Regions from separate parts of the Homo sapiens genome. Here region 2 is linked to region 1. Evidence: fine-mapped expression QTL. A gene starts in region 1. The other region holds a variant in brackets. All regions are shown on one strand. Distances are between the middles of the regions.

Region 1 (5,374 bases):
CCACGTACAGGGATTCACTGTAAGTGTTTCTATTATAGACTGCATTTACGCATGGTGGAAATGTTCCAAAAAGCTAAACAGAATGGCCAAATCTAGCTGAGAGGTCTGTATAAAGTGTCACATAATAGTTTAAAGCAGATGTTGGCAAACTCATTCTTAATATTTTTGGCTTTGGGAGCCATACTTTCTCAGTCCAATATTCACCCTGCCCTTGTAGGGTAAAGGCAGCCATGAATAATTCACAAATGCACATGAACAACATAGCTGCGTTCCCATCAAACTTTATTTGTAGACATTAACATTTAAATTTCAGTAATAGTCACATGCCAGGAAATATTTTTTAATTTTGATTTTTAAAAACATTTTAGGGCTGGGTGAGGTGGCTCACGCCTGTAATCCTAACACTTTACGATGCCAAGGGTGGTGATCTTTTAATTAAGCCCAGGAGTTGGAGACCAGCCTGGGCAACATAGTGAGACCCCACATATATTTACCCTAGCATGGTGGCGTGTGGCTGTAGTCCCAGCTACTCGGGTAGCTGAGGTGGGAGGATCGCTTGAACCCAGGAGGTCGAGGCTGCAGTGAGCTGTGATTGTGACACTGCACTCAACCTGGGCAAGAGGGTGAGACCCTGTCTCAAAAAACAAAATCATTAATTTTTTAAAAAGTAGGATGTAAAACCATTCTTAGCTCGTGGACCCTAGAAAACGGGCAGGATTTGGTCTGAGGGCTGCAGTTTGCGCACCTGTGGTGTAAAAACCATACCCAAAAAGCCTGGATAGGGAAGGGATTTCAGCTTACAAAATACTCGAGAGAATATATAGTGCACAATAGAAAAGAATTTACACACGCGCACACACACACACACACACACACACACACACACACACACAGAGCGAGACAGAGAGAAGTTAATTGTTAGTCTCTCCCTGGTGCAGTTGGGCAAAAATGAGGAAATCTTTTCTGGTCTGGGTTTTGCTTAACTGCGCCATCTGAAGTTTCCATATAACAAACACAATAAACGGATTTTTTAAAACCCAACGTCCCTTGGATGGGAATTTTACCGACCATGTGTTTGCAAAACTACCTAGTCGGCCGGGCGCGGTGGCTTACGCCTGTAATCCCAGCACTTTGGGAGGCCGAGGCGGGTGGATTACCTGAGGTCAGGAGTTCGAGAGCAGCCTGGCCAACATGGTGAAACTCCGTCTCTACTAAAAATACAAAAATTAGTCGGGCATGGTGGCGCGCGCCTCCCCCAGCTACTCGGGAGGCTGAGGCAAGAGAATCCCTTGAACCCGGGAGGTGGAGGTTGCAGTGAGCCGAGATTGCGCCACTGCACTTCAGTCTGGGCGACAGAGCAAGACTCCGTCTCAAAAAAAAAAAAAAAAATTACCTAGTTGTCCCATCCGGTCCCTAGGGAACAGCCTCCGCTTTCTCTTTTCTCTGTGGTTCAAGTGTTAAGACGGCCAGCCCAACCCGCTAGCCGTGCGCCATCACCCGGGCACCGATCAAGTTCCAACCCGAGTGGATCGAGTTCCAACCTGCGGGCCATGCGCCCTCACCCGGGCATCGATCCGGTCTCAACCTGCGGGCCACGCACTCTCACCCGGGGATTGAGCAGGTCCCAACCCCAGGGCCTCACGCCCTCACCCCAGCACTGAGCAGGTCCCAACCCGCGGGCCTCAAGCCCTCAGCCGGGGACCGAGCAGGTCCCAACCAGCCAGCTACGCGCCCTCAGCCCTGCACCGGGCAGGTTCCAACCCGCGGGCCTCTCGTCCTCACTCCATCACGGAACAGGTCCAAATCCACAGGCCGTGCGCCCTTATCCGGGCACCAGTCGGGTCTCAACCTGCGGGCCACGCGCCCTCACCCAGGCGCTGATCAGATTCCAACCCGCGGGCCGCGCGCGCCCTTACCCAGGCAGCCGAGAAGGTCGCAGGCAGCGGCAGCGCGCAGGATGCGGACCGAGGCCGGCGGGGACGTCGCGGGGGACCCGGGGCCCGCGGGCCGGCGGCCGGGCAGCAGCTGCAGAAGGCCCAGCGCCAAGCGGAGCCCGCCGCTGCCCAGGCAGAGCGCGTGGAAGGCCCGCGGCTGGAAGCTCAGCACGAGCTGCGTGGCTGCGTCCCGCGTGGGGCAGCAGAAGGTCCCTAGGCGCGGGGAGGCCATGGGCTGTGTTCGCGGACGCGGCTCGGGTGTGCCAGGACCCCGCCGGCCTGCCTGGGTCATGTGCTGGGCGGGCTGGGGGCGGCATCATGTGCCCTGGGCCTCTCCCCCACCCCAACCCCCAGCGCCTGCAGTAGAGCCAGGCTCGGTGGGGGCCGAGAGCACTGGGCTAACGCCACGAGGCCTCACGAGGTGATGCTTGGGCGGGCGGAGGAGGAGGACAGAGAGAGGGAGGGCTGAGAGGAGAGGAAGAGGGAGGAGGAGGAGGGAAGTGGAAGGAGAAGCAGAAAGGTTGGGAAGGTTACCTTTCTCCCCATTCACCAAGCCTTCCTGGTGGTTTCTCTGCCACCTAGAGCGCCAAACCTGCCATCTTTACTGGTCTTCTAGAGAAACAGGCCTCGTGGACTAGATCTTTCCTATTTGGGACTCTGACATCCTGATTTTGATGCCTTTAAGGCGCCAGAACATGTTCATAAACTGTGACTGATCCCTGTAACTGCTTTTTTCCTAAGTAGAGATGGTTGTCCAATTAGTGCTTTTTTTTATGGCCTCTCTCATTCATGGATATAATCCCACAGAGGCAGGATTTTCGTTTACAATTAATGAATGAAACAAACAGATCAATGTTAAAGAAAGAGCAGTAGCTCACACCTGTAATCCCAGCACCTTGGGAGGCCGAGGCAGGCAGATCGCTTGAGCTCAAGAGTTGGAGACCAGCGTGGGCAACATGGCGAAACCCCACCTCTATTAAAAATACAAACATTAGCCCGGTGTGGTGGCCCAGGCCTGTGATCCAAGCTACTCGGCAGGCTGAGGTGGGAGGATCGCTTGAGCCCAGGAGGTGGAGTTTGCAGTGAGCCAAGATAGTGCCACTGCACTCCAGCCTGAGCGATAGAGCCAGACCTTGTATCAAAAAACGAAACAAAACAAAAATTAGCTGGATGTGGTGGGGCGTGCTTGTAGCCCTAGCTTCTGGGGAGGCTGAGGTGGGAGGATCACTTGAGCCCGGCAAGTGGAGGTTGCAGTGAGCAGAGATTACACCACTGCACTCCAGCCTGAGCAATGGAGTGAGACCCTATCTCTCTCTCTCACACACACACACACACACACACACACACACACACACACACACAGAATTAAGTTTAAAATTTAAAAACATTAAAAAAATAAAGGGAAAAGTACTCAGCATAAGTACACACAGACACATTTTGCACCTTAACTTTCAGTTCTATTTATTTGGATTTTTCTTAACTGCGTTAATTTTTCTATGTTTTCTCATACATTGAAAATCTTGCTTTATTCTATACATGTAAGTTTCCAAGTAATATTGTGTTAATGATTACAGTAAGCATACTAAGATTTTTTTTTTTAAGTTCTTCAAGGCTGAAAATAGAAGTGCTCCTTCTAGATTATGGCCTTTATTTTAAAAAAAGAAAAGAAAAAAAAATCCAGCTCCATCATATTTATCATCTTCAACAAACCTCATTGGCTCTTTGTGACCACACAAGAGACACCCTTCCTCCTCTCTCCTGGTAAAATGGGCCCCTCTCTGGGTTTTTTTCAAGCAACCAAGGTGCAGGTGTCCCCATTGTGTTCATGGACTTTCCTCACTTGTTCTCCCCACCAGCTTTGCGGTTTTAAGGAAGGCATGATCTGTGCCGTCTTCCTCTAGGGATAGCAGGACTGGCCTTCCCTTGGGACCCCACAGAAGGCAGGCGGGAGGCTCCACTGCCAGACAGGAAGCGGAGCCTTATTTAACAACAATGAGGTGCAAACTCCACCACTTCAAAAGAGTCCAGATCTGGCACGTCTATAAACGCAGCCTGTTCACTCCACAGCTGCCTTCCTAGAAGTCAGAACAGACTGACATCTTCAGAAAGCTTAACAGCTCTGCTGGATTACACACTCCATTGTAAAAACAGTCAGAAGCACCATAGAACTACTCCCCAAGCATTAATGTTTAAAAGCTTGAATTCTAATATCTAATTTGGACAGTGGCTCTCTTTCCTTCTGCCTTGGTAAGCAGAGTTGCTTCTGGAGGTTAGTGTAATGGAAAGTGCTTTAAAAGATAAAAATGAAGAGTGTCTGTACATTTGCCTGAAGGTTGAGGGCCAGTGGGCCAGGCAAAGGGGTCCCTGCATTTGAGTCACTGTTTCATGCCCCAGAAAACACACTCCGCCTCTCTGCTTCCTACGTGATAACCTGGGAGTACTCTCCAGGGGGCTCTGGCTGACTCTGGTGCCCACTACTCAAGCTCAGTAGTCAGAATCTCATCAGTGAGAAAATGGATATGAATGCAGATTCCTAGGGCCATGGCACAGATGACAATGGTAAAGATGAGCCTCAGAGTAAAGGTGCAGAAGCATGAGTGTAAGACTAAATTTAAAACCCTGTCATCAAAGTGAGAGGGAACTAGAAATTGGTATGAGAGGCTGGGCCCAGTGGCTCACACCTGTAATCTCAGCACTTAAGGAGGCTGAGGCAGGAGGATTACTTGAGCCCAAGAGTTTGAGACCATCCTGGGCAACATAGTGAGAGCCCATCTCTAGCGTCTTCCTCTAGGAGCAGCATCTTTTGAAGTGGTGGAGTTTGCAGCTCATTGTTGTTAAATAAGGCTCTGCTTCCTGTCTGGCAGTGGAGCCTCCTGCCTGCCTTCTGTGGGGTCCCAAGGGAAGGCCAGTCCTGCTGTCCCTAGAGGAAGACGACACATCTCAAATTAGCAGAGCGTGCTGCTGCGCACCTGTAGTTGCAGCTACTGGGGAGGATGAGGTGGGAGGATCACTTGAGCCCAGGAGTTTGAGGTTGCAGTGAGCTGTGATTGCACCACCAAACTCCAGCTTGGGTGAACTGAGATGACAAACTTTTTTTTTTTTTTTCCTTTGAGACAGAGTCTTGCTCCATTGCCCAGGCTGGAGTGCAGTGGCGTGATCTCAGCTCACTGCAATCTCTGCCTCCTGGGTTCAAGTGATTCTCATGCCTCAGCCTCCTGAGCAGCTGGGACCACAGGCACATGCCATCACACTCAGCTAATTTTTTGTCTTTTTAGTAGAGATAGGTTTCGTCATGTTGGCCAGGCTGGTCTTGAACTCCTGGCCTCAAGTGATCCACCCGCTTTGGCCTCTCAAAGTGCTGGGATTACAGGCATGAGCCATCATGCCTGGCCTGACAAAACTTTTCATGAAACAGTACAACTACAAATCTGAGAAAAGTG
Region 2 (5,374 bases), 23 kb after region 1:
CCGTGGGGCTTCACCCTGAAGGGCGGCCGCGAGCACGGCGAGCCGCTGGTCATCACCAAGGTAAGGCGGCCGCGGGGCGCGGGCGCTGACAGCCGGGAGCTGGCCGCCCTGCGGGGCGCGTCGAGGTAGGGGCGCGGGAGGGGCGGTAGGCTCGCGCCCCCGGGTCTGGCGCGCGCGTCTGCTGGGGTCACCTGCCGGGCCTGGGCGCCGGGACCGGCGTGGGCGTGTGATCCTGGCGGTTCCCCGCGCCTCGCAGAGTTTAAATGGCTCCTGCCCGGAGTCCCTTTCCCCTCCCCCTCCCTCCTCCGGGCAGGGGCCTGGCCGGGTCCTCTGGCGCTCCCGGGCCCGCCAGTGGCGGCCTGCACCTGCGGGGCTGCCTGGAGGCCAGCGAAGGAACGTGTCCCCGAGCCGTCCCCACCTATGTTTGCCTCTCTGGGGTCCCTGGTTCGGCACCCCTTGGACCCGTGCCTGTGATCACTACGAAATCCAGAGTAGCAGCTGTCGCCAGCGCAACTTCTCGATTCCCTTCAGCCCATCAATGTTTACTGACTTTCGGCTTCCAGTCCCAGATCCACTGCGCACTGGATACCTGCGCAAACTTAGAGAAACCTGAAAGCCTGCTTCCTAAGAGCAGGACCCGAGTTCTAATAATAATAAAGAAATTCCAGATGTATCTCATCAGGAATGTTGTGTGTGTGTGTGTGGTTTGCTTTAGAACATTGAATTTTATTGTCTCAAAACAAAATCCATCTGGAAACTTACCAGTTGAACCTGTATGAACTTGTAAAAGCAAACACATAAACAACAGTCCAGTCACCCTGTGTTCTAGTTAAAAGTGTGTAGTGGTCATTTTCTCTGGGAAGGGTTGAGTCGGACCTTTCGTGTGGACGAAGTTCCTTTTAAAATGTAAAGATTCTTGGCGACTAGAAGCGTTTGAAGATAATTTACTGGTTTTCTCGGCTTTCCTGCCTCTCCACAGCAGGAAGAAATTAAGTGATTCCTAACCCGCCGCACTGGTAATCAGTTTGGGAAGTGGGATGGCTTTGTTGTTCAAATAGCAAATGAGACACCAGCGTCTTCCATTCTATATTTTCTGTCGCTTTTATGATTACAAAACTTTGTGGAGGGATTTGGAGAAGCCTTGTTTAGCTTTGCACTAAATTTTTGTTGAACTCAGGAAAGAGGTTGCCATTGTTATAAATTTGACCAATGTGTAATCTTTTATCACACTGGCTTCTTTGGAAACATGGTGGACAGTCATAAAGTGTGTATACTCTGCCCAGCCAGAACACTCCTCTTTTTTTTTTCTTTTATTTCTTTTCTTTTCTTTCTTTCTTTCTTCTTTTTTTTTTTTGAGACAGGGTCTTGTTCTGTCAGCCTCCTGAGTAGCTGGGACCACAGATGTGCGCCACCATGCCTGGTTAATTTTTTAAAATTTTTTGTAGAAACGGGGAGTTTCACCATTTTGCCCAGGCTGGTCTCGAACTCCTCTGCCTCCCAAAGTCCTGGCATTACAGGCATGAGCCACTGCGCTTGGCTCAGAATGTGGATTAATCCAAGCTTTGAATCTTCCTCTCCCAAAAGCTACTGAAAAGTCACTGGGGCTCATTAAAAAATAGCTCTTCTAATCGTTTTTTTTTTTCCACTTGTAATTAAATAGTTACATATTAGAGCCCTGGAATACTGTACAACTCACTTGCTATTTAGCAGACTCTGATTTGGGGATAGCTTGCATTAAGGTAAGAGCGCACCTTCTCTTTATGATAATGAGGGTATCATTTGAAAGCCTCATGGGAGTGCGTGTAGTAGAACTGGGAGGGGTGTCAAGAACAAGGCTGGTTCGGTCCTGGTCTTCAGATGGAATTTTATCAGCCCATTTTATAGATGAAACAGCTGTGGCCCAGGCAGGGCAAATGGTGTATCCTGAGGTCACAAACTGTTGAGTCCTGGGAAAGGCCCTAAGAATCAGACTCTGGCCCCAGTGTTCAAGCCTGCTGCTCCCCTTCAGTCAGTGCCATCTGCTTGGGTCTGGGATCTCCTGCAATGCCATATTGAATACCTTCGTCACATCGGTTAGGTGAGGGTTTGCCAGCCTTGGCATTGGGGACTTTGTGAGCTGAATCTCTTTGCTGTGGGGCTGCCCTGTGCTTTGGAGGATGCTCAGCAGCCTCCCCAGCCTCTACCTGCTTGATGCTACTGTCACCTCTCTCCAGGTGTGATGACAAAAATGTCTCCAGACATTGCCAAATGTCCTCTGGGGGCAAAATTAGCCTGGTTTTGAATCTCTTTTGTTAGATTAACCATATATCACCTTTGCTCTTAAAGGATTCTTGCTCTTAAAACTTCTGTTTCTTTTTGAATAGACTGGCCTTTAGGGTGGTGTGTTTAGAGGCCTCTGGCATTGCCAGTGTTTGCATGGAGAGCTGTTTTCCTCCCACGCGTTGGCCCTGAGAATAGGCTTTATTTACATAGTCAAACTCAAACAAATACTTGCTTCATCTGCATTTTTTGTAGCTGGAGAAAGGAAATTGAAGCAGGAACTCCCAAGTGCTGTGTTTTATGGGCATCCACAGTGGCTGTTCAGAATCAGGACTGACTACTCTCTGGGTCTAGTTTGAAGCTAAAGGGATACCAACTTCAGAGGAGTAGCATTCTTGGAATTTGGGGTGCATGCATGAAGCCCAGCAGAACCTCCGCTGACAGATGGCGACAGGATTCATCACTCCTCAGTACGTTTCTGCTGATTTCTGCCTTGAAATTTTGCTACAGTTGGTGGAAAAAATGCACTCAAACCCATATTTCCATGCTGTTGTTAGAGAGGGGGCAGGAATAACATCCATGCTGTAGGAATCTATGTAACGGAAGTAGAGATGGTGGATATATGTGATCCTGGTGGGTTTTTTGCATGTTTCTGTTCCCATCCATTCAACCAGTGGAAGTCTTCAGTGGGGGGAGGGGAGGGGACTGATTTCTAAAATGTCACTAGAGTGGCTTGAATTCCACAAAGCTGTTTGGGGGATTCATGAGGAAGCGTTAAATACACCAGCTGGGTGTCAGCAGCCCCCTGTGGCCTCAGGAATGTTTGTTAAGGGAGGGAAGGAATGAAGCCCCAGCCTCTCCTGTTCACTATTTCTTAGAGTCCGCTCCCTCCCCCAAAAAGAATGCCAGAAGCCTTAGCCCGAAGCTCCAAAGAAGACAGTAACTTGGGCCTGGCCTAGCCCCAAGGGCAGCTCCTTTGGGAACCCATTGATTTTCGGGTTGCCATTGGGCACCAGAGCTGTTGTGTGCGACAAGACTGCTGTGGTCTGGGACGCTTGGAGG[TC/T]CCCCCCACCTGACTCACCCACCCCAGGGCTTCAGACTCTGAGAACATTTCTCTGGATTGGAGACAGAGCTTTGAAATGTCCTTTCCAGTGTGAATGCCAAAGACGGAATCAGGGCATATTTTGGGGGGCGTGCAGCCAGGTGGCAAGTGTCTTATGTAAAGTGTTAGCTGAGTCCTTGATTGCAGAGGGCACAGGGCTGAGACTGGTGGTTGGTGATGGGCAGGAGTGGAGGCCCCGCGCCTCTGATGTACCTTACTTATTGGTTTGGAAAGGGGGCTCTGCATTATGGGCCATGCCAAGTCACCTCGTGACCCGAGGACCGGGGAGATCAGAGTGACCACCCTGGTCGGGATCAGTTCTTGTCTCATATGCCATTATATTGGCTCCCAAGAGCCAACCAAGCTCTTTGTGAAATATCAGTAAAGGTTTTGAAAAAGAGGGACCTGATGAATTCAGCAGTGGGTCAGGAGCGGGTGACTCTCAACTTTGTGGCTGCTGGTGGATTTTTGTGCCCAGATGCAGTGTGCGGTCAACATCTGCACGAGGGAGTGCTGCTGCTTCTCCAGGTGTCTGAGAACCAGTGGGTGAGGGCTTGGATCTCCCTTGCCTCTGCCATCTCTAAGTGATGTCCGAGTTGTAAAGCTTTACTCACTTTTTGATGCCAGCTACCATGTTTTCTTCAGCTATTAGGATAAGTGTCATTATAAAGATCCATCTGTATTTAAGAATTAATAGTAAGGTTAAAAACCAAGAGGTGAGCTTTCTTTCCTGTGCTGAAAGACCCTTTCAGTTGGTAGGCCCGCCTTGCCAACTGGCTTTCAAGTCTATCTTTATTACCTTTTCCCAGCCTGTGAATTAATGTGACCCTGCTGAATTCTCATCCTTGTTCTCCGGCGATGTTTTGGGCAAGAGTGTGGAGTCAGGCAGTGAGCCTCAAGTCCTATTCCAGGGTCTGGGAGCTGGAGGCTTTGAGGGTCAGCTCTGGGAGGATTCTTCCTCTCTTAGACATTAACTCAGCTTGACTCACGCCTATGAATCCAGAGCCTTCTGCGATTATGAGAAGCTGTAAACATAAGCTATGCATCTCACTTCTGTACCAGGATGCGTTCGGTCTTCATGGCTCAGTTATGAGTATTTCTTAACATGTCGTAACATTTATCTTTTGAAAAAAAAAAAGAAAAGAAAACTAGTTTGCCCAAGAGCTAAAGGTAGAATAGTATGATAATGAAAGGCTCAGAACAAGTAGCAGTTTTCACCTTGTCCTAATGAGCTGGGGGTTTCTTAATCTACCTTTGTAATTCATGGTCAAAAAAACTGGCTTGCCACTTGGGAAGGGCTGGTTTTTCTCTTTGGAAAGCATTTTGGAGTTGTTTGTCCCCTTGCCAGAGTTGTTTTGTATCAGCATGCAAATAAACCTGGATTTGTGGCCAAGTTCTTAAGGGCAGTGGAGAAAAGCTGGGGCTCTGTGGAACTTTTCTTCTTGCACACCGGGTGCAGCGGAAACATTCTACACGATAATGTTAGAATGTAAAAGCTGAATGGACTTTTTATTCAGGTCTTCTTTTACTTTCAAGCACTGTAGTCAGCAGTGGGGCAATTCATGAAGGATAAATTCTGCAGGTTTCTGCAAGCCCTCTTCCTACACATGCAAGCCGAAAACTTTAACCCACATGAAGGATTTTGAAAGAGTTCTGGGTTGCCTGTTGCTCTTTTAGGCCTTTAAAAAAATATCACCAGTGCCAGGCACGGTGGCTCACGCCTGTAATCCCAGCACTTTGGGAGGCCGAGGCGAGTGAATCACCTGAGGTCGGGAGTTCAGGACCAGCCTGACCAACATGGAGAAACCCTGTCTCTACTAAAAATACAAAAAAATTAGCCGGGTGTGGTGGTGCATGCCTGTAATTCCAGCTACTCGGGAGGCTCCCGGGAGGCAGAGGTTGTGGTGAGCTGGAGATCGTGCCATTGCCCTGGGCAACAGGAGCAAAACTCCATCTCGAGAATAGAATAGAATAGAATAGAATAGAATAGAATAGAATAGAATAGAATAGAAT

Direction of the effects. Alleles are on the strand shown, and positions count from the first base shown. SD is a standard deviation of normalised expression in the study named.
As copies of T replace TC in region 2, the expression in spinal cord of the gene that starts at base 2,196 in region 1 goes up (small effect, 0.32 SD a copy in GTEx).

Evidence for each region. PIP is the estimated chance that this variant, and not a neighbour inherited with it, causes the effect.
Region 2: its variant is the best candidate, but not a certain one, in a credible set for the expression of GPR143 in spinal cord (GTEx, PIP 0.69).

What each region holds. Positions count from the first base shown.
Region 1 is chrX:9,763,652-9,769,025 of GRCh38, forward strand. GPR143 (G protein-coupled receptor 143) reads right to left here and starts at 2,196. Exons shown (of 9, transcript NM_000273.3): 1 at 1,917-2,196. The coding sequence starts at 2,166. RefSeq lists an enhancer at 1,102-1,603.
Region 2 is chrX:9,786,651-9,792,024 of GRCh38, forward strand. SHROOM2 (shroom family member 2) reads left to right here. Exons shown (of 10, transcript NM_001649.4): 1 at 1-60. Among named protein-coding and RNA genes, the nearest start is that of SHROOM2, 2.9 kb to the left of the region's middle. The variant TC/T (reference allele first, on the strand shown) is at 3,322.